7 linked regions of the Homo sapiens genome follow. Changing the gene in region 1 together with any one later gene gives a genetic interaction. Each region holds a gene or a part of one and is shown in the gene's direction. Other genes may lie near its edges.

Region 1 (4,049 bases):
TCTCGAAAGACTCCTTTCCGCTCCTATTGATGCCTCGGAGATGGGAGAACTTACACCCAATGTGAGGTTGGGGGTCTTTAGCCTCCCTCCCTCTGCTGAGTACATCTGGGTTGAGAGGCCCTAGGGTTGGGGACTCCTTGTCTGGGCCTGGGCAGGCCTGCCTGGCCCCTTCTCCTTCCCAATGGGGAGTCAGAACCTCTCCCCAGCTTGCCTAGTGGTCAGTGGGTCAGAAGACACCCAGCACGGCTGGGCAGTGCCAGGCTCCAGGAAGACTAATCTTGGTCCCTGCTCACAGGCTGGCCAGGCCCCCAGGAGGTGTGTGAATCACCCCGTGCAGTGTTTGCCCAGCAACTCTGGGCATGCAGCCACTAGGGCAGCACCCACATAGTGGTTGGCCTCAGGAGGCCTGAGGGACTCAGAGCTGGTGCCTGTCCTCCATGGGACATTGGACACTTACGTGTTTTCAGGAGCTGGGGGCCCCTACCTAAGCCTGGGAACGTAGAGCTAAGGTCCTGGGGCTAGGGACAAGCAGGCTAGGGTGTGGGCCTGACTAAGGTAGGGCTCTATTCCCCTTCAGAGCCCCACCTGTCCCTGAGTCATGCTAGAAACACCTGGCAGCCTTCCGGCTCGGGCCAAGCCAAGCCGATTTCCTGCCTCAAGTGAGGACAAAATCCCAGTCCCCACCCACCCCAAGCTGTAGGCACAAGGTGTATGGGGTTTCGAGGCTCAGCTCCACATCTACTTTTGCCTCCAGGGCTACTAATCAGTGCTGAGGTCTCAGGACTGGGTTAAGCCTCTGTGGTCTGATGGAGCCTTCAGAGGCTCCTGCTTCGAGGAGTGCCCTCCGGGCTGGTGAGAGAGAGTCCTAAGCACCTAGGGCTGGCTACTGAGCCCCGTCTGCACCTCGCACTCAGCTCCAACACCGCGAGTTCATACCCTGGTGTACTGGTTTCCCAGAGCTTCCACAGTCCTCCCCTGGAGCGTGATTGCAGCCCCCAAAAACACCCCCTTGCTAAAAGCAGGGGAGAGGTTAGTACCCCCTAGCTTCCAGAACTTAGTTCTGGCACCCAGGCTGTAGGGGTTTGGTTTATCCCTTTTGTACCCTGAAGGGGGGTATAGGAAGCAGCCAGGAGTACAGGCAGACCTTTGGAGTCTAGGGAGAAGGACCATGTCCCCAACCTTGTGCTGGCCAATTAACTCCAGCATTCAGCCCCTTATGCAAGTGGGGAAACCGAAGCCCAGAGGAGACAGGGTTTGCTGAAGTGCACACAGAGAGTCAGAGAAGAGCCAGCAGGGGGCAGGAGAAGACTCTTGCGGAGCTGAGACTTCCAACTGGGCTCTCCTCTTGAGGGTCTATGATGCCTTGGACCAGAGACCAAACCTCTTGAGCCTGTTTCCTCATCTGTGAGATGTACGGGGTGGGCCAGGCACCGTGGCTCATGCCTGTAATCCCAGCACTCTGGGAGACCAAGGCGGACTAATCACAAGGTCAGGAGTTCGAGACCAGCCTGGCCAACATCGTGAAACCCCCATCTCTACTAAAAATACAAAAAATTAGCCAGGGGTGGTGGCGAGCACCTGTAATCCCAGCTACTCGGGAGGCTGAGGCAGGAGAATCTCTTGAACCCGGGAGGTGTTGCAGTGAGCTGAGATCACACCATTGCCCTCCAGCCCCAGCAACAGTGTGAGACTCCGTCTCAAAAAAAAAAAAAAAAAAAAAAAAAAAAAAAAAGATGTACGGGGTGGTTGTGAGGATGGAATGGGGGTAACTCACCATCAGGATGGGCATGGCAGGGTGGGGCAGGGAGAATGAGGAGTGGACCTTCCAGCCTGGGCCTTCTCCCTGCCCTTGCTACACTGAGAGCCCTGTGGGGGCAATGTGGGATGGTAACCGGCAGGCCCAGGGCCTTCTCCAGTCAGGCCAGGTGAGGGGTGAGAGTGTTGGGCTGCTGTGGCCACTGACAAAGGCCCCAGAGGGTCGGGGCACAAGGCTGAACCCTGACTCCTTCCCTTCCCTGACCTTTCCCAGCCTGGCCTGGAAGCCCTCAGCCCCAACACCAGCTGCCGCCACTTCCCTCTGCTGGTCAGTAGCAGCTTCTCACGTGTGGACCTATTCAATGGGCTGTTGGGACCAGTACAGGTCACTGCATTGTATGTGACACGCCTTGACAACGTCACAGTGGCACACATGGGCACAATGGATGGGCGTATCCTGCAGGTGGGTCCTCATCCCCACAGTCCCCTAGCCCTGGGTCCTTGTCTCCATCCCCATTTTGCTCACATCTGACCTGTCCTAGGTGGAGCTGGTCAGGTCACTAAACTACTTGCTGTATGTGTCCAACTTCTCACTGGGTGACAGTGGGCAGCCCGTGCAGCGGGATGTCAGTCGTCTTGGGGACCACCTACTCTTTGCCTCTGGGGACCAGGTGAGGTGGGCAGGGGCAGGGCCTGGGGCCAGGGTTGTGGGATCACAGACTCTCCATCCAATCCAGGGAGGCATTGACATACAGGCCCTACCACCCTAGCCTACTGTGTACCGGGAGGGTCTATAGGGCCCAATCTCTCCCTCCAGGCACCCCTGAGTCACCTGTCTTTCACCCACAGGTTTTCCAGGTACCTATCCAAGGCCCTGGCTGCCGCCACTTCCTGACCTGTGGGCGTTGCCTAAGGGCATGGCATTTCATGGGCTGTGGCTGGTGTGGGAACATGTGCGGCCAGCAGAAGGAGTGTCCTGGCTCCTGGCAACAGGACCACTGCCCACCTAAGCTTACTGAGGTATGGCTTCCCTGGCAGGGCACAGGTAAGAGTGGGACAGGCTGGGCCTGGGGTGGTGGTCAGCAAGTCTTGATCACAATTTTTCTCAGGTCTGGGGGGTGTCCTTCATATCTACAAGGAGGGCATTCTTGTCAGAGGGGATGCCACATGCAAAGACTTGGAGGCAGGAAAGTGCTTGAATGCAAGTGACTCCAAATGGCTGGAGCGTGGGGAAGGCAAGGGGTATGGCAGGAGACTTTGGGGAAGCAGGTGGGGCTGAGAGAGCCCAACCCCACATGAGGACTCAGGCTGTTTCCCCCATTTCAGTTCCACCCCCACAGTGGACCTCTAAGGGGCAGTACAAGGCTGACCCTGTGTGGCTCCAACTTCTACCTTCACCCTTCTGGTCTGGTGCCTGAGGGAACCCATCAGGTCACTGTGGGCCAAAGTCCCTGCCGGCCACTGCCCAAGGACAGCTCAAAACTCAGGTACAATCTGGTCCCTCCCCTCCCTTTCCCTGAAGGGGGAAACCAAGCAGCCCCTTCCCCATGAGACCCTGTTCTCTGCTTATCAGAGGCAAGGGGGGATGGGGGAAGCTGCAGTGGTTCTGACTGCTTTTTGAGAGTCAAAAAGGTCTCTGTCCCTTTTTGAGCTTTCATGTGCCCTTCCTGTCTGTTCACTCATGGACCAGCCAAGGTTAATCTCTGCCCCACCAGAACCTTCCTTCCATGGAGGGAGGCATGGGTGGAGAAATGCCATTCTCTGGCTCAGAGGAGCCCTGTGGCTTGTGGCAGGCATGCATCTAGGCCTGTGTAATTCCTGGCTGACCTCAGGGGTTCCCCTGGTGCCCCAGACCAGTGCCCCGGAAAGACTTTGTAGAGGAGTTTGAGTGTGAACTGGAGCCCTTGGGCACCCAGGCAGTGGGGCCTACCAACGTCAGCCTCACCGTGACTAACATGCCACCGGGCAAGCACTTCCGGGTAGACGGCACCTCCGTGCTGAGAGGCTTCTCTTTCATGGTGAGGCTACCTTGCCCTGTCTGTGCCCTTGGCCAGTGCATGGTACGGGAAGGGAGGGGCTTGGAGTGGAGGACCTGCCTAAGCCACCTCTATGTCCTCTTAGGAGCCAGTGCTGATAGCAGTGCAACCCCTCTTTGGCCCACGGGCAGGAGGCACCTGTCTCACTCTTGAAGGCCAGAGTCTGTCTGTAGGCACCAGCCGGGCTGTGCTGGTCAATGGGACTGAGTGTCTGCTAGCACGGTAAGTACCACCAGGCAGGCATGGGAGGCCGCAGGG
Region 2 (4,049 bases), on another chromosome or scaffold:
ACTAGACTTGAAAGCCATTCTGTAAATGAACTCTCTAGGGGGATAAATGATTAAATAGTTCCTGTTGGTTTGTGCAGTGACCTCTCCTGTTCCCTCCTGCTTTGATTCTCTTTTGGGGCAAATATTTGTTCAGCTGATTACAGGAGGGACAGGATTCCAGTACTGCAGACACACCCTCTGAGGCATCTCCAAGTAGGGATTGAGGCTGCTTGCCCACTTTGCCTGACTATTGTCTTTGGCCAGTGGTCCTAATACCAGGTGGGTTGTTGCCAGCTATAAACAAAAGGCAGTCTGGGAGAGGTGCCTGGTCTGCTAGCCAGCCTCTGCAGAAGGCTACCCCTACCAGAGAATTGCCAGCTGCCCAGTGGTGCATATGAAAGAGGTCTTAGACACAGCAACTCTGGGTAAGTTTATTAGATCTCCATGGGGTTGAAATTCCATCTTCCATCTCTTTGCTTAAGAATCATCAGAGCCTGTTGGACAACATACCACATGTCACTTCCTCTTGGTGAACAGAGGGGATGTGTGTGGAAGAGCCAGTTATATCAGAACCATTTCTGAGCACACATTCTCTCCCTAAGGCCAGGGAGTAAAGAACATTTGACTCAGGATCCTTTGAGCCTGGGTAGAAGGTACCCGCCCCCTTCCTCTCAGGTATTATCCTGTTCCAAGCTGCACCGACTGGCTACTGTGGTGGCATCGGGTAATTATCCTGGAGACTGCGGCTGGGAGATCCTTAAGGGTAGGAGTTATGGGCTATTCTACTCAGGGCTATGTTCTAAATTTAGCATCCCTACAGGAAAGGGGAAGGAAATTAGTCTTTATTGAGTACCTGTTAAGTACTAGGCACTGTGTTAGGTCCTCTACTTATGCAACCAGTGTTTCTTGAGCATCTACTGTGAAGCTAGCAGTGTACTAGGTGCTGGCCATAAGCCACGCATGGTACCTTCCTTCATGGAAACGGCATGCTGTTTCATATATTCTACAGTAACCTTCCAAGGAAGGTGAGTTTATTCCCAGTTTACACATGAAGGTCTTTGTGCCTAAGTGACTGACCCCAGGTGTCCCTCAGCCAGTTAAGTGTCTGAATGAGAATTTACACCAAGGTTGGCATAATTCTAAAGCCAACACTTTTCATCCTATCAAGTTGTCCAGGGAGTAATAAAGTGACCTAGACATGCTGGCCCAGAAAGCCAGAGATGCTGTTGGGCCAAGCAAACCATGCCTGTGAAGGTGCTCACTCTGGACTGATAACTGGCTTTGTTCAGGTAGCTATGGGAAGGATAGTTGGCAGTAGCAGGTTCCCAGAGGCGTGTTGGTAGCCTCAGATTCTGGCACTGGTAAAACTCAGACATGGCAGGTTTCAAGTGGGCATCAGGGTTTTGCCCAGAGTGAGCTGCTTATTAATTTTTTCTTTTTTTTTTTTTTTTTGAGACGGAGTCTCGCTCTTGTTGCCTAGGCTGGAGTGCAGTGGCGCGATCTCAGCTCACTGCAGCCTCTGCCTCCCGGGTTCAAGTGATTCTCCTGCCTCAGCCTCCCAAGTAGCTGGGATTACAGGCATGCGCCACCACACCTGGCTAATTTTGTATTTTTAGTAGAGATGGGGTTTCTCCATGTTGGTCAAGCTGGTTTCAAACTCCCAACCTCAGGTGATCCGCCTGCCTCAGCCTCCCAAAATGCTGGGATTACAGGCATGAACCACCGTGCCTGGCCCCGGCCAATTTTTTCATTGTTAAAACCCTCTCAGGCCCTGCCAATAGATGACAGTGGTGTGCGTGTGGGGAGAAGGTGGCCTGCCCCAGGTATCTCTACTTAGTGGTGGAGTGATGCTTCAAGGACTGAAAGTGTAGACCCTTAGCCAGATTACTGCCTGCCTGGAGTCACCTGATGAAATGCTGAACCTGTTCGGCTGTCTTGTCCATCTGTCTCTCCCGCCTGTAAAATGGAATAATGATAGCCAGCTGCCATAGCTTGACTCGAGTAAAGGATCTAGCACAAAAGCCCTTCTCCTGCCATAATTGTAGGGTGGAAACCCTTTAATGAATGGGCAGCTTCCCTCAGAGAACTGACTCTTCCCCCTAGAGTTTCTCCTTGAGAAACAAAGTCCCTGTGATACTTTCCTGGAATGTTGTATACATGACCTTCCCCGAAGGGACACAAGTGTTTCTGGTGCTTTCCAATGGGAATGTGGGAAGGGACCCAGGTGGGCCTTGCCACTTTGGGATTGCTGTCCCTGAAGAAATCCCTTAGCCTGATAGAAACGTAATTGTTGGGAGCAATGAACTGTGTTGGGGGAGAAAACATAACTTGGCCTTTCTTAAGCTGTATGGCTCAGTGGTCTGAGTTTCTGTAGATCTCTTATTGCCTAATGTGGCTTCTTCAGATGGATGTATGCTTAGTTGAAGCACCTCAGCTCCCTTTGCAGATAGTGGCAGTTCTGTGGTTTTCTTAGGGAAACCCCATTAGAAACCCCAAATGTGGAAATTTTTAGTAATCTCATTCGGGTCCCAAAATTAAGTAGAAGTGTCTCAGGGGCTCCCCCTTGAAACACCTACTTCTTCTGAGTGTACATTTGAGGTTGCTCTTAAAATTCTGTTACCATCACAGGGTTTTCCAGACTTCCTAGGAATAATTTCCCCAGTAGCCCCACAGAGCCCTTTAGCTTCTGTCGAAAATTACCCGGGTATTTTTTCAGGGGGCTCCAATGGAACCTGGAGGGTTTTCTTGACTTTTGTATGGGTGTCCCCAGATTTGTTTGGGCTGCATGAAACAGCAGTTGTTATCTCTGTCCCTTCCCCCAGCAGATATCTGTCCTGAGGCCAGTGGGCTTGAGCGTCCTCCTCTGTGTCCAGTCTCCCTGGTTTTGCCAGTGCCCTCAGCCTTCCATCATGGGGCTTTCTTGAAGCAACTGTGGTTTTGCCTGAGTTTAATGTGGATAGACATAGGGGTAATTCCCAGTGTACTGCTTTTCTACGGAAGTATAATCTCCTACTGCCTTAATTAAGCAGAGGCCCTGTCCCCACCCAACCTCCAACCTAATTCCACAGAGTCCTCCCTAAGGACTCCCTCTTTTTTCTTTGAAGGAGTCACTCTACTCCTGGATCCTCTTCTCTTCTGCCCCTCTATCCGACAGTCTGTCTTCCTTGTTCCCAGTTGGCAGACCTGAGTCAGGCAATCCCACTGGGTCTTTTTGTTTAGCCTGGGGAAGAGAAGACCCAGGAGAATATCACCAGCTTCAGATATCTGAAGGAAGAGGGACTGAGTCTTTTTTTATTGGTGTGGTACCTGGCAAAACTTGGATAAATGAAAAGAAGTTAACAGTTGGTAGAGCTTAAATTATGTGCAGAGAAGACATTTCTAACAGATTTACTCTGTCCTAGATTTAGGAGCTCCTCAGGGTGGAGGCCACATCTTGTCCATGCTTGTTTCCTCAGCACTGAGCAGAGGCCTTGGGCATAGCAGATACCTAATTGAAGAGAAACCCACTAAATTTCTGAAGAAACAGACCCTTGTCAAGCCAGAATAACAATAATGGGAGTGGCTATTTACCTAATAATTCATTCGTTGAGTCAAACAATGTTTATTGAGCTCCTACTGTGTACCATACTGGGAGTATGGCAGTAAACAAAAGTAAGCAAAACTAAGTTTCTGTCCTCATGGAGCTCACATTCCAATGAGGAGTGACAGGCAATAAATATATAATTACATGTTTATATCAGATGATTGTACATGCTATGAAGAAAATAAAGCAGGTTGGGGCATAGGGCATGTCTAGCAAGGGAGGGTGGGGCTGCAGTTTTAAAAGAGTGATCAAAGAAGGTGTAAGGGAGAAAAAAATGGCTTTCCTCTACCCTTCTAGGTCCTTTGGCTGGGCTGAGAATTAAATTGACATAGACAGATTAACTGGAGGAAAAATAATTAATTACATAGTTGTACACAGGAATCCTACAAAATATGAGGCTCAAAGAAGGGTCAGATAATTGAAGCTTATATAGCATCCTGAGCTACAGAAAAGAATATGGGGCTTGGGACTTCTGTTAGGGGCTTGA
Region 3 (4,049 bases), on another chromosome or scaffold:
CCCAGGAGGCAGAGGTTACAGTGAGCCGAGGTCACGCCACTGCACTCTAGTCTGGGCGACAGAGCAAGACTCCATCTCAAAAAAAAAAACGAAAGTAGGTTCTCAAGCACACCTCCTAGAAGATAAAGTGTGAAAAAAGAGCTGAGAAAGCACAGCCCGTGAGACTCAACTGCCTTATAAAAACACTAGCAGCACGTGCTGGCCTCTCGCCTCGGCTGGGTTCTGTGCAAAACCCCATACATTTCACCTTCCTGACAGCCTTGGGCAGGAGGTGTGATTGTTCTCCCAGTGTTACAGATGAGCAAACTTGGTGGACCCCACTTCACAGTTAATCCAGAGCTATTCTCTGTTAGAGACCCAAGGATGCCTGGTTAGTTTGAAATGTGTGCTAGCTCAGAGTTAATTCATATTGGCCCTGTGGTGCTAGCAGCAGGTCCAAGGGCAGTAATTGGCAGCATCTTGAAAATCATTCTTAGGATCCTTAGTGAAACTCCCAGCTCTTCCTGCTTCAGAGTCACCCTGGGCTCCCGGGGACTTCAACACGCCACTACCCTTGTGGGTGGCTGACAAGGTGAAGAGAACACTCCTTCCCCACTTTTGGGGTCAGGCTACCAAGCCGTGCTGCCTAAGCGGCTGTGTGTCTCAGCGACCCCAGTGCAACAGTTCTGCCTGGAGTGGACCCTGGAGGAGAGGAACAGCCGAGACAGCAGGCCTCTCCCTGCCTCCCCAGGGCGCCATGCAAACATCCTCCAGCCTGAGACCACCCTGCAAATAAGCTCCAGTCAGTCACCCAGCCTGCCCGCTGGCCAGCTCTGTCTAGGTGTGCTAAATCCTAGCTGGGCCAGGTGCAAATCTCCCAGCCTTGCCGCCACACCTACCTCATATCGCTTGAAGCTTAATTTAGGGGCTGGGGTTGCTGGAGCAGCCCAGTAGGAAGGCAAGGATAACACAGTTTTTACTTCACTACAAATATTGCGGCAAAAAAACAGATGTGGGGCAGTAACTCACCCCGTCGCTTGGTCCAGGGGTAACTGCCTGCAGCCCCAGCCGACATCCTGGCCTTTCAACACGGAGCTGTGACTGACGGCCCTGCGTGCGTGGCTTCCGTGCTCTCAGCTCCGCTTGCTCGGTGAGGTGGACGTGAGGGGACAGGGGCTGTCCCCTTGTTGCTGCCTCATTGCCAGCCGTGCAATTCCCACCCAGGGCTTCTGTTCGGGGTGTTTCAGGGTTTACAGTTGGGTAACTCGTTGTTGTCTGCTGTGCCTGGCTTTTCAATCCAATAGGCCTGCAAGTCCTCCGAGATTCCTCCTCCTAACCAGCCCGGAGTTCCCCAGGGCCGTGCCCCTCCCCAGAGAGGGCCCTCGGAGAGCTGCTCCCGCATTGTCATGTTGACTGACCTTTCCTTCTTTTTGTCTTTTCTCCACAGTGTGGCAAAGGAGCAGAGAACTTTGACAAGTTCTTCACACGAGGACAGCCCGTCTTAACACCACCTGATCAGCTGGTTATTGCTAACATAGACCAGTCTGATTTTGAAGGGTTCTCGTATGTCAACCCCCAGTTTGTGCACCCCATCTTACAGAGTGCAGTATGAAACTCACCAGCGAGAACAAACACCTCCCCAGCCCCCAGCCCTCCCCGCAGTGGGAAGTGAATCCTTAACCCTAAAATTTTAAGGCCACGGCCTTGTGTCTGATTCCATATGGAGGCCTGAAAATTGTAGGGTTATTAGTCCAAATGTGATCAACTGTTCAGGGTCTCTCTCTTACAACCAAGAACATTATCTTAGTGGAAGATGGTACGTCATGCTCAGTGTCCAGTTTAATTCTGTAGAAGTTACGTCTGGCTCTAGGTTAACCCTTCCTAGAAAGCAAGCAGACTGTTGCCCCATTTTGGGTACAATTTGATATACTTTCCATACCCTCCATCTGTGGATTTTTCAGCATTGGAATCCCCCAACCAGAGATGTTAAAGTGAGCCTGTCCCAGGAAACATCTCCACCCAAGACGTCTTTGGAATCCAAGAACAGGAAGCCAAGAGAGTGAGCAGGGAGGGATTGGGGGTGGGGGAGGCCTCAAAATACCGACTGCGTCCATTCTCTGCCTCCATGGAAACAGCCCCTAGAATCTGAAAGGCCGGGATAAACCTAATCACTGTTCCCAAACATTGACAAATCCTAACCCAACCATGGTCCAGCAGTTACCAGTTTAAACAAAAAAACCTCAGATGAGTGTTGGGTGAATCTGTCATCTGGTACCCTCCTTGGTTGATAACTGTCTTGATACTTTTCATTCTTTGTAAGAGGCCAAATCGTCTAAGGACGTTGCTGAACAAGCGTGTGAAATCATTTCAGATCAAGGATAAGCCAGTGTGTACATATGTTCATTTTAATCTCTGGGAGATTATTTTTCCATCCAGGGTGCCATCAGTAATCATGCCACTACTCACCAGTGTTGTTCACCAACACCCACCCCCACACACACCAACATTTTGCTGCCTACCTTGTTATCCTTCTCAAGAAGCTGAAGTGTACGCCCTCTCCCCTTTTGTGCTTATTTATTTAATAGGCTGCAGTGTCGCTTATGAAAGTACGATGTACAGTAACTTAATGGAAGTGCTGACTCTAGCATCAGCCTCTACCGATTGATTTTCCTCCCTTCTCTAGCCCTGGATGTCCACTTAGGGATAAAAAGAATATGGTTTTGGTTCCCATTTCTAGTTCACGTTGAATGACAGGCCTGGAGCTGTAGAATCAGGAAACCCGGATGCCTAACAGCTCAAAGATGTTTTGTTAATAGAAGGATTTTAATACGTTTTGCAAATGCATCATGCAATGAATTTTGCATGTTTATAATAAACCTTAATAACAAGTGAATCTATATTATTGATATAATCGTATCAAGTATAAAGAGAGTATTATAATAATTTTATAAGACACAATTGTGCTCTATTTGTGCAGGTTCTTGTTTCTAATCCTCTTTTCTAATTAAGTTTTAGCTGAATCCCTTGCTTCTGTGCTTTCCCTCCCTGCACATGGGCACTGTATCAGATAGATTACTTTTTAAATGTAGATAAAATTTCAAAAATGAATGGCTAGTTTACGTGATAGATTAGGCTCTTACTACATATGTGTGTGTATATATATGTATTTGATTCTACCTGCAAACAAATTTTTATTGGTGAGGACTATTTTTGAGCTGACACTCCCTCTTAGTTTCTTCATGTCACCTTTCGTCCTGGTTCCTCCGCCACTCTTCCTCTTGGGGACAACAGGAAGTGTCTGATTCCAGTCTGCCTAGTACGTTGGTACACACGTGGCATTGCCGCAGCACCTGGGCTGACCTTTGTGTGTGCGTGTGTGTGTGTTTCCTTCTTCCCTTCAGCCTGTGACTGTTGCTGACTCCAGGGGTGGGAGGGATGGGGAGACTCCCCTCTTGCTGTGTGTACTGGACACGCAGGAAGCATGCTGTCTTGCTGCCTCTGCAACGACCTGTCGTTTGCTCCAGCATGCACAAACTTCGTGAGACCAACACAGCCGTGCCCTGCAGGCACCAGCACGTGCTTTTCAGAGGCTGCGGACTTTCTTCCAGCCATTGTGGCATTGGCCTTTCCAGTCTTGGGAGGAGCGCGCTGCTTTGGTGAGACACCCCCATGCAAGGTCCTCAGAGTAGCCGGGTTCTACCACAAACAGAAACAGAATGAAAGTAGCTGTCAGTCCTTGTAGAGAGCCGCTCTGTTTCCTCCCAGAAGCATCTCCCAGCTAAGCTCGCATTATTTTTCTCCTCTGGCTGTTTGCCTGAAGTTCACAGAACACACAACCATGAAAGGCTTTTTGAGGTGAGAGGCCCAGGTGGTCCTGGCAACCCTGAGTAGAAGGAGAGACGGGGTAGGGAACGGGCCCGGCCAGAAAAGAACCATTTCTTCTGCCATCTTTTATGCACCATAGACATCGAGACTCCAGGGGGTCCTGGCTCCCCTGTCCCTGCAGCCCTGCAGGTCAGTGCATGATCTGGGTTCGTGTCCTGACCAGGTGCTCCTCCTTTGATCCGAGG
Region 4 (4,707 bases), on another chromosome or scaffold:
TGGAGGCGGAGACAAGAGCTGTGACCTAGACATAGGGGAGTGGGGAGACAAAGCTGCTCAGGCAGACAACCAACTAGGCTGCTACATCTGCTTCTGCAGCAGAGCATGGGAGGGTGGTAGGAATTTGTCATGGCAGCAGGGACATCGGAGCTGGGGTGCAACGGAGGAGCAGCCGCTTTCCAGGTAGTCAAGACAGGAAGGAGCATGGTCCAGAAAGAAGAGATGACAGGTGCCAGTCTACAGCGATGGTGAGCAGAGGCCTGGGGGCTTGGCAGGTGGGTTCGCATCCTGGATCTGGCTGTTTCTTAGCTGAGTGACTTTGGGCAAGTTGCTCAACCACTGAGTGTCACTTTGCTTCATCAGCACGATGGGAATAAAAATGCCCACCTCTCAGAGCTGTTGTGATGATTAACTAAGGTAGTGTCTGCAGAGTCTCTGCACTACAAACGGCAGCTGCCATTCTAGAGGGACCACTGCCATGACTTCATGGGGACATTTCCATGGGGAGCCACAGGAGGTTCACTGGACAGGTGTGTATGTCCAGTGTTTAGGAGGTGCTCTTGAAGCAGATCTGTTACTCTCAGGAGGTTCTCTAAGCGCATATGTGACTTTGCCATGTGGGGATGGGGGGCAGGGAATTATAAGCTAGTGTATTCAAAACAGGAGCAGCCCTTGTAAGCAAAGCTGTTCCATTATAGCCAAGTCATGTGCATCTCAGCTCCAAAGGAGAAAGTGACCATTCTCATTGAATTCTCATCGCCACAACCTTGGGACTGCCTGAGATAAGACACTCCACTTCCAGGGCCCACCCTGAGTTTTCACTCACACCCTGGATGCCCATCTCCTTCCCTCACCCTGGCTGACATTCTCAGCCACACTGCCCTCCCCTGGTCTCCAGGGGCTGAATGCTCCCAGCCTCAGGGCTTTTGCCGTGGCTGTGCCATCCATCTGGCCTATCGAACCCATTTGCTCACAGCATCTCACCCCCTGTAATAATTTATTTCCCTCTTTCCTTGTACCCTGTCTGTCTTCTCCCCCAGGGCTGAGAGCTCCAGAAGGAACCAAGGACAGGGAGCCTGTCTTGTCCAGCTCTGGTGCCCAGCAGGAGAGCCAGGCTCATAGGAGGTCTGCAAGTAATGTTTCTGGACGAACTTATGAAAGGCAGGTCTTTTTATACCCATTTCATGGATGAGGAAACTGAGGCAGAGAGAGAGAGAGACAGGCAGACGCACACACCCCTAGACAGAGAGAAACACTCCTGGAGAAAGAGAAAGGGAGGGAGAGAGGGAGGGGGAGGGAGGGAGAGAGAGAGAGAGAGAGAAAGAAAGAAAGAAAGAAAGGAAAGAAAGAAAGAAAGAAAGAAAGAAAGAAAGAAAGAAAGAAAGAAAGAAAGAAAGAAAGAAAGAAAGAAAGAAAGAAAGAGAGAAAGACAGCGCAGCTCCAGCCTGCCTGTATCCAGGGTTGAGGTGGGCGTGAGAGACACACGCAGGCAGGGCTGCAGTTCCGGGCAGGCCTTGGGGGCTCAAGATGCGGCTCCCCAGGGCGAGTGCTGGGGTCCCGGGGCAGGCGGGCGGCTGGAGCCCTCTCGTGGGCGGGCGCAAGGGGCAGGCTGGGCGGGCGCAGGCGGGAGCGTAGCAGCCGCTCCACTCCGCACGCAGGCAGCATCGGGGCAGCAGGAGCAGGTGAAGCAGGCGCGGCTCTGCCCCGCGCCTGGTGCCCCCTGGGCACAGGAGTGCGGCCGGGGGCGGGGCCGAGTGGGCCCCGGTACGAACCCTCCGGGAAGCCGGGCGCGCTGCCTGCCCTTGGCCCGGGGCGCAGAGCGTCACACTGGATCTGGGGAGCATCCTACCCCCACTGTGGACCTCAGTCTCCTCACCTGAGACATGGGCGGCCCCATCCGCACCCTGTAAGCCGCAAGCCAAGGAGGTAAGGGGTGCATCTGAGGTGTCTGGGCGCTATGGGCATTAGGATATAGTAGCTTTTGCTGAGATTTCAGGAGACAAAGCAAAGGGCCTTCCCTATTCTAACCCCACTGGGAGATTAGCATTGTGTGTATGATTCATTAATTTTCCTCTGATTGACTGGGAAGGCAGGCTGCAGGGGGTCCCTGTTGGGGCTTGCAGCTGGTTCTAGTTTTTGTATCTGGAGAGCTGCCTGGGGACAAAATGCAGAGACACCATTTTATTGACCTTGCGTAATAATCTACCCTCCCCCTCATACACTCGCCACCCCCTTGGGTGTGCCTGAGGGACTTGAGGTCCCCTGGTCCTCACTGGTCAGTGTACCCCAAGCCCAGCAGCCCCAGGCAGATGCCCAACACCACCTTTTCAGTGCTCCTCCTCCTCCTGTCTTGGCCCTCTCTGCCAATCCATTTTCTATATCCAAGTGATCTTACTGGAATGGACCTGACCTTGCTGGTCTGGCCCACCACTCCAGCTTCATCATCTGCCACCCTGGAACCTCTTATTCTGCTTACTTTTCCCAGCAGGCTCTGCTCCTTCCTGCCTCTGTGCCTTTGCACATGCTGTTCCTTGCACTTCGAGTTCCCTCCTCTCCCTGTCCCTTTGGCTGGTTGACTCCTCTTCAGCCTTTGAGCCCTGTACCATTGCCACCTCTTCTCTCACCTCCCTGCTCCCTGCTCCTTCTCTGATCTCTCAACTCACAGGCCTCTCTTTCATATTGGTGTTGGCAATGGCAATGAGTTCCATCTGCATTCGTGCTGGTCAGCCCCTCTGCTCTGGGAGGGCCATGACTGTATAAGTCATCTTTGCAGCCCTTGTTTCTAGCCCAGGGCTTGACACACACTTATTGAGTGGGTGAATGAAGCAGTGAGCATTTTCTGGAGCCCTCCCAGCCCAGTCCTTCCACTCTGATCCTGCTTTAGGTGGTTGGTTTGGGATGAATGGTGTTTCTCCACACCACTGGCCAAGCCTTGCTGATGGTCACCCAGAGCCTTGGGTTCTGGCCCATTTGCTGCTTCTGAGTGCAGTGCCTCTGCCACAGGTTCATGCAGCTGCGACTGTTCTTTATCTTATATTGGGCCCTGTGTTTGGCTCTGGAATAGTTTATTTTGCCATGTTCAGCCCCAAATGGCCCTTTTTGCCCGAAGACCATAGTGCTGGAGAAATCTTCCTGCCTTCGAGATCTGGTTCCTAAATAACCAGACTGTAAACTATCAGGTGAATTCACAGCTTGATCTTTTAAATGACCAAATGAGACTCTTTTTTTTTTTTTTGAGACAGAGTCTCGCTCTGTTGCCCAGGCTGGAGTGCAGTGGTGCACTCTCTGCTGACTGCAACCTCCGCCTCCCAGGTTCAAGTGATTCTCCTGCTTCACCCTCCCATGTAGCTGGGACTACAGGCATGCACCACCACACTTGGCTAATTTTTGTATTTTCAGCGGAGACGGGGTTTCACCATGTTGGCCAGGCAGGTGTTGAAGTCCTGACCTTAGAAACTCATCTTTATAAGTAGATCAGATGCACAGCAAGTGACATTCATGACAGCCGACAAATAGATTTTACTGAGCTCTGGTTGATTTTGGCCTTGTGCTCTGCAAAAACTGCCTTAACATAGCAATTGATCATGTAAAAAATACATATGGCCATGATATGAGACTTAAAGAATATCTCAAATAGGGTTTTCTGCTATAGTGTTTTACAAGATGGGGTCCAAGGGCCATGTGCATCAGAATCACATAGTCTACTTGTTAAATACAGATTCCTGGCCCCCATCCTGGATTCACTTAACTACATCTCCTGGTGGAAGGGCCCTGGGATCTGCACTTTCAACATGCTTCTAGAATGATTCTGATGTTTACTGAAGGTTGAGAACTGCAACCCTGTGGGATTAATAATGACTAGAGAATCTGAGAGGTGAGTCACAATGATGTATGTAGTGGTATGGTGCTTCCCATGCAAAACATCCATCATTGGCACTAACACGGGGGAACTCTGGAGTCTAAATTCCAACTCAGTCTTGGCAGGGGGTCCGTTGTGCTGAGGAGGTCCTCGGAGAAGGGACAGCCTGTACCAGGGCATAGAGATGTGGAAGAGTCTGGTGTGCTTGTGAGCTGCACACTGCATCAAGTGACTTGAACATAGTCATGGAGTAGGTTCTGTGGAGGGCACTGGGCACCTGTGACTTTGGCCAGGTATGTCTGTGCACATGGTGGGTAGTAGGAAGAAGCTGGTGTGCTGATGAGCCAGGCTTTGCATACTGGGCAGTCTTCAGTTTTGCCAGGTATCACCTAAAAAACAAGGCTACCAGGGCAGGGAGGGGCTGAGACCAGGAGGGTGCACTGATTGTGGATCCCCGAGGCTTTAGCTCTATCTTGAAGGGAATGGGGTGCCGTGGAAGGACACAAGCAATCCTGTGCAGAGTGGCATTTATTGCTGTCTCCATTAAGATAAAATGTGACAAGGGGCATTCTACCCATGTTCCCTGAACAATTCCGTCACTAAAGTCTGCATACAGCACTCCAACTTCTTTATCATCAGAACAGCCTCATCCTGAGGCCGGAGGGAATTAGTAGAACAAGTTCTGGCATTAGATGACCTGAGTTTGTAACTGGGCCCTGTTACTAATTAGCTGTGTGACTATGGGCAAGTTGCTTTCCATCTCAGGGTCTTAGATTCCTCATCTATGAAACGGATTGATAATATCTACCTCTAGGAATAAACTAGCTAATAGACGAAAGTGCTGAGCA
Region 5 (4,536 bases), on another chromosome or scaffold:
AAGCTAGTGAGGTTTGTTTTTTTTTTTTTTTTTTTTTGAGACGGAGTCTTGCTCTGTTGCCCAGGCTGGAGTGCTGTGGTGCCATCTTGGCTCACTGCAAGCTCCGCCTCCCGAGTTCACGCCATTCTCCTGCCTCAGCCTCCCGAGTAGCTGGGACTACAGGCCCCCGCCACCACGCCCGGCAAATTTTTTGTATTTTTAGTAAAGATGGGGTTTCACCATGTTAGCCAAGATGGTCTCGATCTCCTAGCCTCGTGATCCACCCGCCTCGGCCTCCCAAAGTGCCGGGATTACAGGCGTGAACCACCGTGCCTGGCCAGGTTTTGTTTTTTCTAGAAAAGGGAGGCATCACTAGCCATCTTCTCTGATGGAGACTGCTGCTGGGAATAGACAAGCTGAGAGTGGCCCAGGGGGCTGGGAATATGAGAATGTCAGGACCCCTCTGTCCAAGGTAGCACTAAGCTCTAATGTAAACTGTGGTTACAGTTGTCACTACTAAAGGGTTAACATTTATTTTGCCCCAAACTAATCTTAAGTGCTTTTCGTGTATTCTTATTCAAGCCTCACAACAACCATGTGAAGTAGGTGCAATTATTACCCCCATTTTAGGGATGGGGAAACTGAGGCACAGAGCAGTAGGGAGAACACTTAAAATCTACTGTCTTAGAGATTTTCAAGAATACATTGTTACTAATAGTCACCGTGTTGTACAGTGGATCTCTTGAACGTATTCCTCCTGTCTAACTGAAATGTTGTATTCTTTGACCAGCATCTCCCTACCCCCACCACTCCTAGCCGCTGGCAACCACCACTCTACTCTCTACTTCTGTGAGTTCGACTTTCTTGGATTCCACATAAGTGACATCACATGGGATTTGTCTTTCTGTGCCTGGCTCATTTCACTTAATGTCCTCCAGGTTTATCCATGCTGTCACAGATGACAAGATTCCTTTTGTAAGGCTCAGCAGCACTGCATTGTGTATCAGTACCTCATTTCTTTATCCATTCATCCATTGTGGACACCTACGTTGATTCCACGTCTTGGCTATTATGAATAGAGCTGCAGTGAACGTGGGAGTACAGATATCTCGACATGCTGATTTCATTTCCTTGGAGTATCTACCCTGTAGTGGGATTGCTAGACCATGTGGTAATTTTAGTTATAACTTTTTAGGAACCTTCATGCCATTTTCCATAATGGTTGTACTAATTTACATGCCCATCAGCAGTGCACTAAAAGTAGCTTTTAAGTGTTCTCACCACAAAAACATGGTAAGCATGTTCTGCGTGTGTTGATGAGCTTGATTTAGCCATTCCACAATGTGTCCATATTTCAAAACAACATATTGTACATGGTAAATATACATAATTTTATCTGTCAATCTTTGAAATTGATTAATTTTTTAAAAACCCCTCTTAGGCTCACACAGCAACTGGCTGAGCCAGCAGTCACATCAGGCTTGGCTGGTGCCAGATCCTTGGTAGTTGGTGCTCTCAGCAGCCACCCTGAATGGCCTCCCAGCGGGAGCTTGCTGAGTATTTGTTGACACAATGATTGGCCCAGCCTCTGGGATCCTAAGCCTACAGCAGTTGTTCTACACTTTTTTCCATTTGAATTGCATTTATAACAGTTGGGGGTATACAATGAAAAAATAAATCCCGATTTCTGGCTTCTCTTAAAACATAGGAAGGTGCGGCGGGCAGCTCTGAGTGCCAGCCCGGTGGCAGATTTTCCAGAGTAGTGGTGTCTTGCCCAGGTATCCGTTTCATTCTTCAGGTTCATTGAGTCTTACAGATACAAGTTTTGAATCCATTGCTCAGGAGCGTTTAGTGCAGATGGTCTCTTCCTGTGTTCTCTGAAAGTGCTGTTAATAGCTGCTTTCTTCCTGCCCCACCCTCCATAAGAGGACAGGGCCGTGGCCCACACTTGAAAGAGGCCGGGGTAAATGCCTGGCCAGAGACACACACCGATGCCTCCAGCAGGCATGCAGGGAGCTCCCTTCAGGTCAGAAGGCGTGACCTTCATCTCACCTGTCGTCTTGGACAAGCCCTTGCGCTGCCTGATTTGGGAAGAGAGGTCGGCCTGAGCGCTGCCTCCTGTCCTTTGATATCTGGCACTGGGAAGTAAAGGGGAGAATCTTGGTTTCCAAATCCCAAATGCTCACCGCTGCCTTTGTTCCCTCACAGTGTGATCCAGCTTTGCTTCCTGAGCCCAATCACGTCATGCTGAACCACCTATACGCGCTGTCTATCAAGGTAATGACATGTCTGTCCCCATGAGAGCTGTGTTGCCCAGTGTGTGCTCTGAGGACCCCCAGCAGTGGAATGACCTGGCGGGACTGACTTAAAGGGCAGCTTCCAGGGTCTGGCACAGGCCATCAGGCTCAGGTTCTGAAGCTGGCCCGGGAATTTGTGGTTTTATGAAGCCCTTAATGATTCTCATGTCCTCTGAGGCTTGAGCCCCTTAGTCCAGCCTTTGATCATTTCCACCTTGTTCCTTAGGATGGAGTGATGGTGCTCAGCGCAACCCACCGGTACAAGAAGAAGTACGTCACCACCTTGTTATACAAGCCCATATGAAGAGCTGGGGGCGGATGGTGGCCCAGGAGACAGCACACCACCAGGCTCCACACGTGCATGCTTTCCCCAAGAGGGAATGGACTGTACATTGCTCATTTCACACTCTTCAGAAGACATTTCATACCTGCCCTGGTCCTGCTTGAAGGTTTGTCCAGGCAGAGCAGCTCCTGCAGCGCCTCGGTCTGTGACAGTCCTCCTAGCACCCCCATGGCTTTGAGCCTCGGGGACTCATCAAGTCCAAGAAAAGAGGGAGGGGTGGCAGAGGATCTGCAGCCCTGGCCCCGCGGTGCATGAGGCTGGGTGCAGTTCTAAACCTACATTCTCGATTTTTCTTAAGCCAAAAATGAATGCTAACTCCTTTGCCAGTAAAATTCTGGGAAACAGGGACTGAGGCCACACATCATTTCCAGTCATCTGTGTGTTTTTAAGGCCAGCCACTTGTCCCTGTTGAGGCCTGGCTATGGAACTAAATACAGTGTTGGTCTTGCCTGTCCTTCAAAATCAACAACAGATTGTCTCTCGGCTCCAGGGAGGTGTCATTTCTATAGAAATTAGAAGCTTTCTGATTTCTAGATGAGGTTTTACAATTGTTTCTTACAGTCATGTGCACTAAGTACTCTTTTTGTAAGCAGAGGTGGCTGGCTCTGCAGCCTTAAGGCCATTTTTTAAGTCACCACGTCTAGAAGTCACATGAACTCTGCTCAGCAATAATCTGTTCTCAGAACAGACTTTTCAACCTGCTGCCGGATTTCTCCATTCAGCTGGATGATCCTCAGGACTGACCAGTTAGCTGGCAGGTTGTCCAGCTTTTTATTCCAGTCATAATAGGTGACAGTGTTAACCGTGAAAACTTGAGAGGCACTCTGCCCTCTTCCCTATAAAATCACACAGCGTGATTTTACAAGGTCCCGTGGCACCTTGCTCAGGACCTCTGCCCCTAGTTAGCAAGACTGCAGCAGTTGCTGTTGCTTATTCTGAAAGGAATGTAGAACTTGACAGCAGCCTTCTGAGTCTGGGTCAGGAAGATGTCCTTTGGACCAAAGCAGACTTCTTTATACGCAGCTCAGTTTCCCGGGAGTCGCCACAGATGTACCCACTAGCCCAGGTTGCTGTGAGTCAGCGGAAGCTCCCGTTATGCCCTTTGCTCCTGGTGGGAGAGGGAGGAGTGAGCTCCCTGGGTTCCAGTATTTACTTGGTATACCTGAGTTTGGGGGTACCCTTTTTTGTGACTTTTCAAAACAGTGAATTACTGTCACCTTGATGGACAAGTTTCAATAAAACTTTGTAAAAATAATTGGACATGTGCCTGGAGGAGCTCTGATTTTATTCAGTCCCTTGGAGAAGAGACTGGAACTCTTCGAGAGTTGCGTTTCAGTACCGTTCTTGTGGCTCTGAGCGGACAGGGCTACTCCAGCTGCCCAGGCCTGAGAACCAGTCCTGTGACTCACACCCATTCACACAGTTTGGAACCTTAAGGGACCCCTAAAACTGAGCCCCTCTGAACAGCTCAAGTCACAAGGGGAAGCTGAAGAGGGGTAACAGCAGAGGCTCCTGGCTTCGGCCAGTTGTTGGTGTCCCCAGGCCAGAGGGTTTGTTTCCTTTTGCTCCTAAACAAGCCCGGTGGGACAGCCTGGGATCGTGACCCTGGCGTGTGAGAGAGCAGGACGTTGTGGAGTCAGAGCTGTTTTCATCCACTAAAAGAGGCCGTGTCCCTCCTCCAAAAAGGTGGAAGGTTATGGGTGTTCCTTTAAGCCTTCTCAGGTATCAGGAAACATTTTAAATTTAGCAGAAAAGCATGCTAATGAGCTCTACCCACTGGTGCAGAAAACCCAAGCTGAAAATGCTATGTAAAATAAGACTGGTTTACTGGAGCCAGTCACCCCATGAGTTCTCCAAGCCCTGGGGCCACAGGGGACTTCCAGGTGAGGTCACTGCTGAGATGATGGAGGAGACACA
Region 6 (4,049 bases), about 93 Mb from region 1:
AAGTTACATGAAGAAAGTTGGTAATTCCCTTACAGAATTTTTTATAAGGGAATTAAAATTTATAGCATTTTGGTAAGAGGAAAAACAGGATGTAGAGAGAAGGATTTGTTTAAACCTTCTAAGACTATAGAACCATAGTCTATATATAGACTTAAATAATATAGATCAATTTAGATGTTTATTTTGCTTTATGAGACTCTAAAAGTAGTTTCACTAGAAAACACCTAACATCTAATACATTCTTGCTGCCTATGAATAATATAAATATATTTTCTAAGGAATATTTCTGGAAATTATTTTTTATTTTCTCAGTACTTGTTGGGCCCACTTTATGCAGCTTTGAAAATGGAAAGTATGGAAATCATTGAGGAGATTCAATGCCAAACTCAACAGGAAAACCTCAGCAGTAATAGTGATGGAATATCACCCAAAAGGCGTCGTCTCAGCTCGTCTCTAAACCCTTCTAAAAGAGCACCAAAACAGACTGAGGAGTATGATGACCTTCATTCAGTTTGTATTTAGCCATTAAATAAAACTTTGTTCACTTTTAAAAATCAGCTTTAGTTAAGTGCTTTGATTTAAATACACAAAGAACATCTTTCTAAATGTAGCCAAGGGAGTGCTTAAAATATTTTTATAATTATTGTAGACGGTTAGTAGTATAAAACATTTCATGGTTAAATATAGTTACTTTGCATGTTTTTATATGCTTATCTAATTTAACTTTTTAATATGTGAAAAATCTTTGAGACTGTGCATCTATTAGCAATTTTTAAAACATTAACCAACTATTTTTTATAAAGTGGCTAAGTTGCCATATTTCAGTTACTTCTGAACATTGTTTTAATTGTTTTAAATCTTAGTATAAATTTCAGGCTGGGCGCGGTGGCTCACGCCTGTAATCCCAGCACTTTGGGAGGCCGAGGCGGGCAGATCACGAGGTCAGAAGATCGAGATCATCCTGGCTAACACGGTGAAACCCTGTCTCTACTAAAAATACAAAAAATTAGCCAAGCGTGGTGGTTGGCGCCTGTAGTCCCAGCTACTCGGGAGGCTGAGGCAGGAGAATGGCGTGAACCCGGGAGGCGGAGCTTGCAGTGAGCCGAGATGGCGCCACTGCACTCCAGCCTGGGAGACAGAGTGAGACTCTGTCTCACAAAAAAAAAAAATTTTTTTGAATAGTTGATATTACATAGTATGTTTTATTCTAAATATGTTTCATGTTTTAACCAAATTTATATTGCATATGAATATCTCTCTACTATATTCATAATTATAGAATTAAACATGTGGACATGAACCAAAAGAGCATATTATGGAGTGCACTGAAACAGAAAGCTGAATCCCTTCAGATTTCCCTTGAATACAGTGGCCTAAAGAATCCTGTTATTGAGATGTTAGAAGGAATTGCTGTTGTCTTACAACTGACTGCTCTGTGTACTGTTCATTGTTCTCATCAAAACATGAACTGGTAAAACAAACTTCTTGTTTCTTGGGGTTGGGTTTCCTGTAATGAACTTGGATTTACTGTTTACTCATTATTCACTTGACTCATGTAACCTTAGAACACAAACTTTTCACTGAAGTAGTTAATAAATTTATTTTCTATTGAGTCAAATGCTAGGTACGGTGCTAAGCACTGTATATATCTTAGTTAATATTTACAATAGTCCTGTAAGGTAAAGGCTATTATGCCTATTTTAAAAATTAGAAACTGACACTCAGAGAAACTGAGGCTCTTTTTTGTCTGAAGCCAAAACTGACTTTCCTGGGGACACATGATTAGAAAGTACCAGAACACATTTGTGTACAACTCAAAACCCAGTGTTTGGCTGTTGAAGACAGGGTCTCGCTTTGTCTCCCAGGCTGGTGCACAGTGGCATGATCATGGCTCACTACAGCCTTGATCTCTATCCGGGGCTCAAGTGAGCCTCCCATGTAGCTGGAACTATAGGCATGTGCCGCCACACCCTAATTTAGAAAAAATTTTTTTTGTAGAGATGGGTTTCCCTATATTGGCCCGGCTGGTCTCAAACTCCTGGGCTCAAGTGATCCTCCCACCTCAGGCTCCCAAAGTCATTTGGTTCCCAAATCCTAAGGGTGATTTAAGCTGACATAAATAGATTCAACTTAAAATAGTAATAACATATTACTTGATTTGCATGTTTACTTTAAATTGTTATAGATAAATTTCGTACTCACAATTTCTTTTGGCTTTACTACAATTTTATGTTTGACTATAACAAAATTCATCTTAATTCCAATGTTTTTAACAAAATGTACTTACTGCAGCCGTACTTTCAAGGACTGTCAACATAAATCCAAGAAGAAACCTTCTGTAGTGATAACTTGGATGTCATTGGATTTTTACACAAAAGTGCTTAAGAGCTGTAGAAGTTTGTTAGAATCTGTTCAGAAACTGGACCTGGAGGCAACCATTGATAAGGTGGTGAAAATTTATGATGCTTTGATTTATATGCAAGGTGAGTACAAATTAGCAACAGATCAGAATAACCTTTAAAGATAATCAGTATAGAAATATGCTTTCTTTTTTGCCTGAAGCCTAAGTGCGTGTTTGGAATACTCAGAAGTTTTTTCCTGATTTCAGTTCTATTAAATTTGTCAATAATAGAAGTTCTGAGTTGCCAATTTATGTGCATAATATTTTGATTCTTTAGTCAATAGAAATTATTTATAACTTCAAAGTTTTTTAATTTGGGAGTTTGAGGAATGCCGTGATTCTTCTTTAAAACAGGCATAGATAACATGTTTTTATAAAGTCACATTTAATTTCTTTGGGTTCACAGACCTCAGACCATCGTTTATAGATCTCTGTGTTAAGAATTTCTGCTTATCCAATGATCATTATGATAGTATTTCAAATGTCTTTATTTTTATTTAAAAGAGATATGATTAAGGAAAAGTTATAATTAATGACTTATTTTGTGCTTCTGTAGTAAACAGTTCATTTGAAGATCATATCCTGGAAGATTTATGTGGTATGCTCTCACTTCCATGGATTTATTCCCATTCTGATGATGGCTGTTTAAAGTTGACCACATTTGCCGCTAATCTTCTAACATTAAGCTGTAGGATTTCAGATAGCTATTGTAAGTGCTCACAAGAATGTGTGTGTGGTTTGTTTTATTTATCTATCTATCTATCTATCTATCTATTTATTTATTTATTTATTTATTTATTTATTTATTTTTGAGACGGAGTCTTACTCTGTCGCCCATGCTGGAGTGCAGTGGCGCAATCTCGGCTTGCTGCAACCTCCGTCTTCAGGTTCAAGCAATTTTCCTGCCTCAGCCTCCTGAGTAGCTAGGATTACAGGTGCGCACCACCATACCCAGCTAATTCTTATATTTTTAGTAGAGGCGGGGTTTCACCATGTTAGCCAGGCTGGTCTCGAACTCCTGACCTCAAGTGATCCACCTGCCCCAGCCTTCTAAAGTGCTAGGATTACAGGCGTGAGCCACCATGCCTGGCCTTGTGTGGTTTGTTTTAACTCATCTCTATATAGGACTTCTAAGACTTATTTATATTTTTTTCAATAATTAAAAGAGCAGGTACATTTTTAATAGTTCAGAAGGGGGTTAGATACATAAAAAGTAACACATAAAAGCCTGCCCCACATATCCCATTTCCTTTCTTTTTGTAAAACATTTGCAATGTGTCCTTACATATCATTATCTTCATTTAATAAAATTAGGAAGTATTTGAGAAATATTTTAAAAAGAAGAACAATATACCAAAAATTCTTATACCAACTTCTCAGTTTAAGAAATAGAAACATTAGGCCAGGCACGGTGGCTCACGCCTGTAATCCCAGCACTTTGGGAGGCCAAGGCATGCGGATCTCTTGAGGTCAGGAGCTTGAGACCAGCCTGGCCAACATGGCAAAACCTCATCTCTTCTAAAAATACAAAAATTAGCCAGGCATGGTGGCTCACGCCTGTAGTCCCAGCTACTAGGGAGGCTGAGATACAAGAATCTCTTGAACCCAGGAGGCAGAGGTTTCAGTGAGCCAAGATTGCACCCCTGCA
Region 7 (4,049 bases), on another chromosome or scaffold:
AATCTTCTGTGATTCCCAGCATCTAGCTCCACATGCTGATGTTTGCATAGAAATAGGCTATGGAGTAGAAAGTTGAGGACTGAACAAAATGACAAGCCCTAGGATAGTTTCATCTTGTGAAGTCTGAAGTGCTTTTCCCATAGCAAGTAGTCACTAATGGTCAAGAAGTTAGAAACTTAAGAGTCACTCAGGCTGTGGATGAAGCAAACCCAGGCACCAAGGCTGTCCTGTCCGGGAACCAAGTGCTTCTTGCACTAGATCCTTACCCTACCACACTTGCCATTCAAATGTCATTTCATCCCTTTGCATCTTTCTCCTTAAGCCCTGAAGGGCATCCGAAAGGTATGAATGCAGATCCAAACCTGCCTAATTGGAGTTGACAAGAGTCAGACTGCCTGGGCTAATGTCAGTTGTTATTTCTTTCTCCTGCTCCTCACTCCCCTGCCCTGTATCTTGGGGCTTTAAAGAAATGGACCCTTACAGCTGATTTCTCCAGGGGCAAGAATTCTGCAGCAGGATTCAGATTCTTTAACTTGTACTTCACACAGGGCTCAGCAGTGTTACCATGGCCACAAGAGATGGAGTTAGAGATTTTTTTTCAACCAATCATTCCTTAAATATTGAGCACTTTCTGTATACAAAGAGATATATTGATACATGGTCCCTTTTCTTATAGAGTTTATCTCCTAGAGGAAGAGAGAACAAAGAAACAAGATATTTACAAATAGCAGTGGGCTCTATGAAGAAAATTAATAGAAAGGGAGCAAAACACTAGAGAAGCCAATGCCATTGCCTCAGGGTCACACAGTGATGGGAATGCTCTCTCATTGTTCTCCATGGGTGCCCGGTGGGGCTTGCCTTGGGCTAATATTGGCCAGAGGCAATACTCAGAAGTTTCCCTGCTGGGTGCTGGGCCCACTGAAGATGAAGGTCAGGGCAGGAAACAGAAGGGGTGCACTCTGACTCTTCCTCCAGCTCTGAGCCCTGGAGAATAAAGCTCAGACAGGGCTGGCTGCAGGGAGCATGGCTCACCACCACTAGCTGCTCAGGTGAGGGGAAAAGGAAGTCAAAAGATTATGCCCTCTGATTGTCCTATCCTATTTTGCAGGTGCTGCTGATAAAGCTGGAACTCGAGAAAACCAGGTTGGCTGGGGATTGCTCTCTTCCTGGGTAGGAGGGAAAGCCACAGGCTAGAGCCACCTTTAAATTAGCTTCTTATTAGATTTCCTGAGGCTTTATTTCATGAGAACACCCCGGAGATTCTGACGGTTTTCACTCACAGCCCCCTCCCATCTCTATGAATAGAAAAGCTTTGCCCCAGGGCATGTTTTTAGCTAAGGAAAGGGTGTCTTGCCAGGATCATTTTTCCTCATTCCACAGGAGACCCCAGGTTCACCATAGCCAGGCCCAGTAGTCAGCTGAAATAAGCTGCCAGTCAGACCTATTCACCTGAGCCTCCAACTCCCCAACCACCCCAGACACCTTGCCGGCTCTCAGACCACCTGGGATCCGGAGCTGAAGAGTTGAAGAGTATGTCCTTGAAAAACAGCCAACCAGCTCCAGGCCCAGCCTAGCCTGGGCGTCTGCCTTAATGGCCTGAAGAGCTCCTCCCAGTCTTTGAGCTTCCTAATCTGTCTCTATTGGCAGGTTCTACTGCCTTGCCTTGTCTCATCTCAGCCTCCCTTGCTACAGCTGTGTGGCCACAGTGATAAATCTACACAGCTGCACAGTGCTTGACGGCTTGCAGGGCAATTTTATATCCATCACCTCATTTGATCTTCAGACATCCCTGTGAGAGAGGCCAGACATTCTTATAATCCCCATTTTACAGTTAGGGAAATGAGGCTCAGAGGCATTACATTTGGTTGAGGTCACATAGCTAGGAAGCGGTAGAGCTACAAAATCATATTACCCTCTAGTAGAAATGTAGTCAGTAACATCCCAAGACAGGGGAGAGGGATCAGAATTGGATTACAATAGAAGACTAGAAACCAGGATGGAAACATGGGACTGGTGGCTGAGCAAGCAGCCATTACTCATAGTGACTACTCTCTATCCTTCTCATCCTGCCAGCCAGCTGTGGTGCATCTACAGGGCCAAGGGTCAGCAATTCAAGTCAAGAATGGTAAGAATCAAAATAGGCTCTCTCCCAAAGAGGAGCTTCTCCCCTGCCTCCTCCCCAGCCTCCAAATAATCACCCAGCCTAGTTCCTCCCAGGCCGCTGAGGTACCGTTGGCATACGAAGTCATTCTTTGCTCCATCATGCCCTCTACTGGCTGTCCTGAGCAATTGCTGGCATCAAGACCAGTTGCTACACCCAAATTGCTTTAGAATCACTGATGACGGAGCTGAAAGGGACTTGAGACATCATCTAGCCCAGGCATTCTCAGGGGATGGAGGTTATATCAGAGCCACCATGGAGATATGTGTAGTTAGATTAATATTTTCACAATACAAATTATAGAAAGTAAAACTATGTAAAATTAAATTTTTCTTGTCTGATCTACACAGGTGGGCAGACAGGCTGCATCTCTCAGGGAAGGTGGGGCATGTTAGAATCTCCAGGGAATTTAAGATGCTAGTGTCTATCAAAAAGGAGAACATGTTTAATGGGGTTAAGAAACACTGATTTGTTGTAATCCCTGCATTTAAAAGATGGGGAAACAGAGTCCCAGAGAGATTGGATAATACCATAATAAATCATGCTGTCTCATATTTGTACGATACTTTAGAGTTCTCAGCATACTTTCTTTGTCTTTAATTTCATTCAGTCCTCACAACCACCCTATGAGGTAGGTATGAGCTCCTTTTTACAAGACAGAAAGTGAAGTTCAGAGAGATTAATTAAGTTTCCCAATATTTCTTAGTCAAGTTAGTTTAGGAGCCAGGATTCAAAACTACATCTTTCTGACTCTTTCCTCTCCCCTGTGCTACTTCAGTGATATGTATGTACACTCCACTGAATGATTAGGTTCATTTTCTTCCCCCAAAGAAACATGAACATTCATGAAAGAACAGCACTTTGGAATAATGTCCAGTCCCCAGAGTGCACAAAGCCTAAAATGCGTGAACCCCCAGGAGCCTTGGGAAGCAGCAAGCTAGCCAAGATGCCAGATGCTTACAGAGCTTGGGGTGGAAGGGAGGGGTTGTGAGTACAGAAACGGTAAAGGAAGGTTAAAAAAAACAGCTACATGGGGACAGTTTCTAAGAACTCAGTCAGTCCTGAACTGGCTGTGCTGAGTTTCCTTAATGACTGTATTTAGCTACTTCCCTGACTGCCACCTCCATGTCTGACTTAGTAGCCTCAGAAGTGTAAATAGGAACACAATGGCACCAAAACCCAATTGGTCCTGCTGGGGACCCCAAGGCCCTGAGTGGGCCATGATCCCCACCTGTCCAGGGAGGCCAGAGACAGGCCAAAATAGATTTGTTTGGATATCTAGATGGATAGTGTTTATTCTGTGCTAGCAGCCACTGATTTTGCTCCCACTGCCACATAATAAGATTGTTTCCAGCCCCTCTGGGCCAATCCTCAGAGGTGGTCTGTGCTGACCTTTAGTACTACCAGAAGAAGTGATGGGGGTGGGGTGCAGTGACTCACACCTGTAATCCCAGCACTTTGGGAGGCCGAGGCTGGCGGATCACATGAGGCCAAAAGTTTGAGACCAGCCTGGCCAACATGGTGAAACCCCGTCTCCACAAAAAATACAAAAATTAGCTGGGCATAGTGGCACACACCTGTAATCCCAGCTGCTCGGGAGGCTGAGGCAGGAGAATCACTTGAACCCGGGAGGTGGAGGTTGCAGTGAGCCAAGATCACACCACTGCACTCCAGCCTTGGTGACAGAGTGAGTGACAGTCCATCTCAGAAAAAAAAAAAAAAGAAGAAGAAGTGATGGGGTCAGGGGTTGGAGGACGTCATGCAGAGTGGTCCATTGATGGGACAGAGCCAGGGCAGCTCCTAGCCCATCTACTTACCACCTCAAGGAAAGATGGTCACCTTTTCCAGAAAGGCTGTTTCCTCACCCCTCAGACAGGCAGGCCTACTG

What was found.
Region 2: changes in MST1R (region 1) and BCL2L1 together harm fitness less than expected from each alone (positive genetic interaction), as found in Homo sapiens cells (one large-scale study listed by BioGRID).
Region 3: changes in MST1R (region 1) and PRKCA together harm fitness more than expected from each alone (negative genetic interaction), as found in Homo sapiens cells (one large-scale study listed by BioGRID).
Region 4: changes in MST1R (region 1) and NPY4R together harm fitness less than expected from each alone (positive genetic interaction), as found in Homo sapiens cells (one large-scale study listed by BioGRID).
Region 5: changes in MST1R (region 1) and PRKAB1 together harm fitness less than expected from each alone (positive genetic interaction), as found in Homo sapiens cells (one large-scale study listed by BioGRID).
Region 6: changes in MST1R (region 1) and ATR together harm fitness more than expected from each alone (negative genetic interaction), as found in Homo sapiens cells (one large-scale study listed by BioGRID).
Region 7: changes in MST1R (region 1) and EDA together harm fitness less than expected from each alone (positive genetic interaction), as found in Homo sapiens cells (one large-scale study listed by BioGRID).

The regions. Positions count from the first base shown.
Region 1 is NC_000003.12:49,897,244-49,901,292, reverse strand, and holds part of MST1R (macrophage-stimulating protein receptor isoform 1 preproprotein), read left to right. Parts: intron 1-2,029; coding exon 2,030-2,218; intron 2,219-2,297; coding exon 2,298-2,426; intron 2,427-2,604; coding exon 2,605-2,775; intron 2,776-3,081; coding exon 3,082-3,242; intron 3,243-3,607; coding exon 3,608-3,773; intron 3,774-3,876; coding exon 3,877-4,013; intron 4,014-4,049. UniProt on the Homo sapiens protein: Receptor tyrosine kinase that transduces signals from the extracellular matrix into the cytoplasm by binding to MST1 ligand. Regulates many physiological processes including cell survival, migration and differentiation.
Region 2 is NC_000020.11:31,716,038-31,720,086, reverse strand, and holds part of BCL2L1 (bcl-2-like protein 1), read left to right. Parts: intron 1-3,242; exon of another isoform or gene 3,243-3,466; intron 3,467-4,049. UniProt on the Homo sapiens protein: Potent inhibitor of cell death. Inhibits activation of caspases. Appears to regulate cell death by blocking the voltage-dependent anion channel (VDAC) by binding to it and preventing the release of the caspase activator, CYC1, from the mitochondrial membrane.
Region 3 is NC_000017.11:66,802,447-66,806,495, forward strand, and holds part of PRKCA (protein kinase C alpha type), read left to right. Parts: intron 1-1,426; coding exon 1,427-1,591; 3' UTR 1,592-4,049. UniProt on the Homo sapiens protein: Calcium-activated, phospholipid- and diacylglycerol (DAG)-dependent serine/threonine-protein kinase that is involved in positive and negative regulation of cell proliferation, apoptosis, differentiation, migration and adhesion, tumorigenesis, cardiac hypertrophy, angiogenesis, platelet function and inflammation, by directly phosphorylating targets such as RAF1, BCL2, CSPG4, TNNT2/CTNT, or activating signaling cascade involving MAPK1/3 (ERK1/2) and RAP1GAP.
Region 4 is NC_000010.11:46,462,897-46,467,603, reverse strand, and holds the start of NPY4R (neuropeptide Y receptor type 4), read left to right. Parts: upstream 1-1,645; 5' UTR 1,646-1,926; intron 1,927-2,871; exon of another isoform or gene 2,872-3,718; 5' UTR 3,719-3,874; intron 3,875-4,707.
Region 5 is NC_000012.12:119,677,746-119,682,281, forward strand, and holds the end of PRKAB1 (5'-AMP-activated protein kinase subunit beta-1), read left to right. Parts: intron 1-2,187; coding exon 2,188-2,256; intron 2,257-2,502; coding exon 2,503-2,580; 3' UTR 2,581-3,874; downstream 3,875-4,536. UniProt on the Homo sapiens protein: Non-catalytic subunit of AMP-activated protein kinase (AMPK), an energy sensor protein kinase that plays a key role in regulating cellular energy metabolism.
Region 6 is NC_000003.12:142,557,685-142,561,733, reverse strand, and holds part of ATR (serine/threonine-protein kinase ATR), read left to right. Parts: intron 1-312; coding exon 313-491; intron 492-1,279; coding exon 1,280-1,471; intron 1,472-2,292; coding exon 2,293-2,483; intron 2,484-2,957; coding exon 2,958-3,110; intron 3,111-4,049. UniProt on the Homo sapiens protein: Serine/threonine protein kinase which activates checkpoint signaling upon genotoxic stresses such as ionizing radiation (IR), ultraviolet light (UV), or DNA replication stalling, thereby acting as a DNA damage sensor.
Region 7 is NC_000023.11:70,028,396-70,032,444, forward strand, and holds part of EDA (ectodysplasin-A), read left to right. Parts: intron 1-1,108; coding exon 1,109-1,143; intron 1,144-2,073; coding exon 2,074-2,125; intron 2,126-4,049. UniProt on the Homo sapiens protein: Cytokine which is involved in epithelial-mesenchymal signaling during morphogenesis of ectodermal organs. Functions as a ligand activating the DEATH-domain containing receptors EDAR and EDA2R. May also play a role in cell adhesion.